Linked DNA regions of Homo sapiens: region 1 is linked to region 2. The links come from fine-mapping of genetic effects on gene expression. A gene starts in region 2. The other region holds a variant in brackets. All regions are shown on one strand. Distances are from middle to middle.

The links. PIP is the estimated chance that this variant, and not a neighbour inherited with it, causes the effect.
Region 1: its variant is fine-mapped to the expression of RSL1D1 in whole blood (INTERVAL, PIP above 0.99).

The regions. Positions count from the first base shown.
Region 1 is chr16:12,115,502-12,118,410 of GRCh38, forward strand. All of the region lies in intron 11 of SNX29 (sorting nexin 29), which reads left to right. Among named protein-coding and RNA genes, the nearest start is that of SNX29, 140 kb to the left of the region's middle. The variant C/T (reference allele first, on the strand shown) is at 1,772.
Region 2 is chr16:11,850,015-11,852,923 of GRCh38, forward strand. RSL1D1 (ribosomal L1 domain containing 1) reads right to left here and starts at 1,528. Exons shown (of 9, transcript NM_015659.3): 1 at 1,394-1,528; 2 at 265-404. The coding sequence starts at 1,498. RefSeq lists enhancers at 690-1,889, 1,662-2,196, 2,197-2,730 and a silencer at 1,458-1,644.

The DNA.
Region 1 (2,909 bases), 270 kb after region 2:
TGTGTGTGTGTGTGTGTGTGTGGTGCTGGGTACTAAGTGGAATCACTCTGTAAAGGCACATAGAACAGCCTGTTATTCACAAGAGCTCATGTGAATATCTTTGCAGAATGTGCCATCTCTTCTTGCAGACCTACTGATTTTGTGTTTTGCAGTGAAGAATGGGTAGGCTCCACTATGCACGGTTTCACATTTATCTGGAGCCATCTAATTAACACCTGTACTCCACTTGTCACCTGAACCTGGTCCTTTGGCGGGTTTCTGCAATATGTTCCTCCTCGAGGCCTTTCTTTGTGAAACACATGTGTACCTCGCTTGCAGCTCTCTGCCCACTGACGGAGAAGTGAGTGAGCCTCTTGTGTAATTGATGGATAAGCCCTCCACTGCACCCCGCAAGAGGAGTATTCTTAGGGGAGCAGCTGTCTTCCTTTCCACCCTCGTCCCACTCTCCCTAACTGCTTTTTCAACTGGATCAGTAAGGATTTAGTGTTAAACAATATTTGGATTCATTGTGGTGAAATAATCCAAATTGACCGTGCCAGGTGATGGAGACAAAGATATCTGCCATACTAATTTCCAAACTCTCCTGTAAGTGCAATATAGTGATTTTGAAAAACTCTCTCTCCTAATTGTGGGAAACAGTTTGGTGGATCCTTAAAACGTTAGTGGAATTACCGCATGTCCCTGTAATTCCACTTCTAGGTACACATCCAAAAGAACTGAAAGTAGAGACTCAAACAGGTAACTATGCACAAAGGTTGATGGCAACATGATCACAATCTCCAAAAGGTGGAAACAGCTCAGTATAAATGTCCATTATCTGAAGAATGGATTAACAAATTGTGGCATATCCATACAGTGGAACATGATTCAGCTATAAAAGGAATGAGGGGCCGGGCGCAGTGGCTCATGCCTGTGATCTTACCACTTTGGGAGGCCAAGGCGGGGTGGATCACTTGAGGTCAGGAGTTTGAGACCAGCCTGGCCAACATGGTGAACGTCATCTCTACTTAAAAAATACAAAAATTAGCCGGGTGTGGTGGCGGGCACTTGTGGCCCCAGGTACTTGGGAGGCTGAGGCATGAGAATCACTTGAACCCGGGAGGCAGAGGTTGCAGTGAGCCAGGATCACGCCACCATACTCCAGCCTGGGCCACGGAGTGAGACTCCTTCTCAAAAAAAGAAGGAATGAGGCACTGATACATGCTTCAACGTGGATGAACTGTGGAAACAGGCTTAGTCAATACATGCTTCAACACAGATGAACCGTGGAAACAGGCTTAGTCAATACCTGCTTCAACGCGGACGAACCGTGGAAACAGGCTTAGTCAATACGTGCTTCAACGAGGACGAACCATGGAAACAGGCTTAGTCAATACCTGCTTCAACGCGGACGAACCGTGGAAACAGGCACGGTCAATACGTGCTTCAACGAGGACGAACCATGGAAACAGGAGTGGTCAATACGTGCTTCAATGCGGATGAACCATGGAAACAGGCGTGGTCAATACGTGCTTCAGTGCGGACGAACCATGGAAACAGGCGTGTTCAATACGTGCTTCAATGCGGACGAACCATGGAAACAGGCGTGGTCAATACGTGCTTCAGTGCGGACGAACCATGGAAACAGGCGTGGTCAATACGTGCTTCAGTGCGGACGAACCATGGAAACAGGCACGGTCAATACGTGCTTCAACGCGGATGAACCGTGGAAACAGGCATGGTCAATACGTGCTTCAATGCGGACGAACCGTGGAAACAGGCGTGGTCAATA[C/T]GTGCTTCAACGCGGACGAACCGTGGAAACAGGCGTGGTCAATACGTGCTTCAATGCGGACGAACCGTGGAAACAGGCGTGGTCAATACGTGCTTCAGTGCGGACGAACCGTGGAAACAGGCGTGGTCAATACGTGCTTCAATGCGGACGAACCGTGGAAACAGGCGTGGTCAATACGTGCTTCAACGCGGACGAACCGTGGAAACAGGCTTAGTCAAAGGAGCCAGGCAAAAAGACTCTATTAAAAAAGAAGACCACATAAGAGATGATTCCGTTTCTGTGAAGCATTGGAGTACGTAAATTCATAGAGACGCAATGTGGATCAGAGGTTGCCAGGGAGGAGGATGAAATGGGAAGAAATTGCTTAATGGGTAAGAGGTTTTGCTTTGGCGTGGTAGAAACGTTCTAGAACTGGATAGTAGTGATGGTTGCACAACATTTTGAACGTACTAAAGGCCACTGAATTGTTCACTTTCAAATGGTTAATTTTATGTGATATGAATCGTACCTCAGTACATGATTTTTAAAAAACCTTCAGTTTGGCGGGGCACGGTGGCTCACAGCTGTAATCCCAGCACTTTGAGAGGCTGAGGCGGGCGGATCACAAGGTCAGGAGATTGAGACCACCCTGGCTAACACAGTGAAACCCTGTCCCTACTAAAAATACAAAAAAACTTAGCCGGGTGTGGTGGCATGTGCCTGTAGTCCTAGCTCCTTGGGAGGCTGAGGCAGGAGGATTGCTTCAACACGGGAGGCGGAGGTTGCAGTGAGCCGAGATCCCACCACTGTACTTCAGCCTGGGCGACAGAGCGAGACTCTGTCTCAAAAATAAAAACAAAGAAAAAAAACTTTCAGCTGTGCCACCGCTCCCCACCCGCTTCTCACTAGCCAAGTAAGCCTTTCGCTTAGTTCCATTGCTTCTACTGCTGGAAGCAACCTCTGCAACTTTGTGCTTTTAATTCTGGTGAGTACTCCTTTAAAGCTAAAGTGCTCATGATGCCTTTTAAAAGAAGACTGTAGATAGTAGATATACAGACCACCTTTTTTTTTTTTTTTTTTTTTTTATGAGATGGAGTCTTGCTCTGTCACCCAGGCTGGAGTGCAGTGGCACCATGTCGGCTCACTGCAACCTCCGTCT
Region 2 (2,909 bases):
CAGGGTTTTACCATGTTGGCCAGGCTGGTTTTGAACTCCCGACCTCAGGTGATCCGTCCACCTCGGCCTCCCAAAGTGCTGGGATTACAGGTGTGAGCCACCACATCAAGCCTCTATGGTTCTTTTGGACATAGTTGTTTTACTTCACGTCAGATTTTTATTATAAGTTTGCAAAGTTTCCATTAGTAACCATGATGCAATTGTTCGAGTTACAAAGAATAAACACACAGATAAAAACAGCAAAGGTAGAAAATCACAACTTACAATCTGACCCTCAGTTCTTTACTTGGAATTTTCCATAATACCACCATTAAAAATAAACTTTCATTCTCATTCAAAAGCAACCCATAATTGTTTTTCCTGGACTTGCAATGCGTCAAGAGAGCGTCCACTGCCTTTCTAACCTGCAAAGTGGAAATTAGACAAATAAGTGAAATGTTTTCACAATAACTTACACAAATAAATGAAATGTTCTCAATCTAATTTAGCATTTGCCCCCTCCCACACCTTCTATTTTTTCCCTTCCAACTTCTATTTCAAGGGGTAACCTCCATAACCGTATCTATTAGGATCCTGCAGTTTATATTCACAGAAATCTAAGAATCCATCAAACATGCCTAAGTACCCACTTCCAGTACTGTGTGCAGAAGGGCACCTCTTCTACTTAAAGAGATTGGGCTAGAGGGAAACGTGCCCCTCCTGCCCTCAATGATGAAAGCAGTAATCCCAGGAAAAACGCAAAGCAAAATGCATTTAGCATTTACTGAGAACTCCTGGCAATTCTCCTGCCTCAGCTTCCCGAGTAGCTGAGATTACAGGCGCCCGCCACCACGCCCACCTAATTTTTGTATTTTTAGTAGAGACGGGGTTTCACCATGTTGGCCAGGCTGGTATCGAACTCCTGACCTCAGGTGATCCACCCGCCTCGGCCTCCAAAAGTGCTGGGATTACAGGCGTGAGCCACCGCGCCCGGCCTACTGAGCACCTTCTTACCATGTACCAGGCCAAAGCGCTTTACACTCATTACCTCTCCCGATCCTGGATAACGGGGAGCCGAAGGGCCCACTTTAAATAACGGGTAACAGACCTGCAAAACTAAGCGATTCGGTCAAGCGCTAATGATAGGGAAGCTAAGCCAGGTCGCCAGGTCTATCTCATCTAGCTCCACAGCACACTTGCAACCCAATTCACTAGCGCCAGGCCGCAGGACCAGGGAAAGCAGGCGCCCACCCACGTGTGTAAAGGGGAGAGACAGCTGAGGCACACGGCCCGCCAGCGACCGTCCCACAGCCCCGGGGAAGTCCGCCGAGCACGCACTCGGGTTCCGGCACCCTGCGCCTCACGAGGTAACCGCCACACTGCTTCCAAGCCACCCTCCCCAGGAACCACTCACCTGTTCTTTATCCAGCTGCTTCCGTGCTGTCGGGGCCGCTGGAGTCGAGGTGGAGGTTCCAGTAGCGGCTGCAGAAGACAGCGAGGCCGAGGCCGAATCCTCCATCTTGTTTCCACCTCGTGAAGAGGCGCGTGTGCAACCCCACTGCTGGCTTCTGGTGCGCACGCGCGAGCAAGCCCGGCCCCGGAAGCGAGGGGGCGGGAACCGAGCCTCTGTGCGTCATTTCCGGGAGAGCGTGGGGTTTCGCTCTCCGGGGCAGTGGCTGCTGTCAGAATCCCTTCTTTGAGGAGGCACCTGCTCTTCCGCTTTTCTCCAGCTTTCCATGAGCTGTGGGGAGTAGCTTGGGTGTCCTCTCACTCTTACTAGATAGAAATCAAGAAAGCGCCTTGAGGCGAGAGAAGAGTCCCGTCAGGAGGCCCAGTGGGGTCCTCCACACTCCACGGTCCCCGCCTCCGGGAAGGCCGCGCGTGGCATGGGCAGAGCGCGGAATCCTGGCTCCACTGCCCACCTGCCCGTTGACTTTAGGCGACGCCAACCCCAGGCTGGTGAGGAGTCCCTGAAATATAAGGCACGGGAGCCACCCGGAGCCACCCGACCTGCCACGTTAAGCAGCATGAGGGACCGAAAGATGAGTCTGGGCCAGTCTCTTAGGAGCTTCTGGTCTCGCAGAGAGGCGGGAGGTAAGATCCTGTACAAATAAGCGTGGCTGGTCGTGCGCGTGGCTGGCGTCTGGAATCCCAGCGCTCTGGGAGGCCGAGGCGGAGGGATTCCAGGAGTTGGAGACCAGTCCGTGCATATACGAGACTCCGTCTCTCCAAAAATTATAAACATTAGCCGGCGTGGTGGTGCGCGCCTGTAGTCCCGGCTACTTGGGAGGCGGAGGATGGAGGATCTTGAGGAATTCGAGGCTCGGTGAGTTCTGATCCGCGCCACTGCACTCCAGCGTAGGCAGTAGAGTGAGACCTTGTCGCTAAACAAACAGGTTAGGAGTGGAGGCTGGATAACTGACAAATGGAATACCTTAGAACAGGGGAGTCCAATCTTTTGGCTTCCGTGGGCCACACTGGAAGAAGAATTGCCTGGGCCCATATATAAAACTAATACTAATGATAGCCGACGAGCTTTAAAAAAAAAATCTAAAAAAAATCTCGTAATGCTTTAAGGAAGTTTACGAATTCGTGTTGGGCTGTATTCAAAGCCTGGCCTCCAGGGCCGCACGCGGCCCTTGGGTAGGACAGGTTTGCTTTGTAATGTCTTCCTCCCACTCCACCCGCCTCCCCAGAGGTACCCTTACCAGTGTCTCCTGGAACCTTCCAGAGATGTTCTAGGCATGTTTAGGAGATACTTCTCCTTTCTCTTGTTGGATGGGTTTAATTAATTTTTTTCCTTTTTTTTTTTTTTTTTTTTGTAATGGAGTCTCGCTCTGTCGCACAGGCTGGAGTGCAGTGGCACGATCTGGGCTCACTGTATCCTTCGCTTCCCGGGTTCAAGCAGTTCTCTGCCTCAGCCTCCCGAG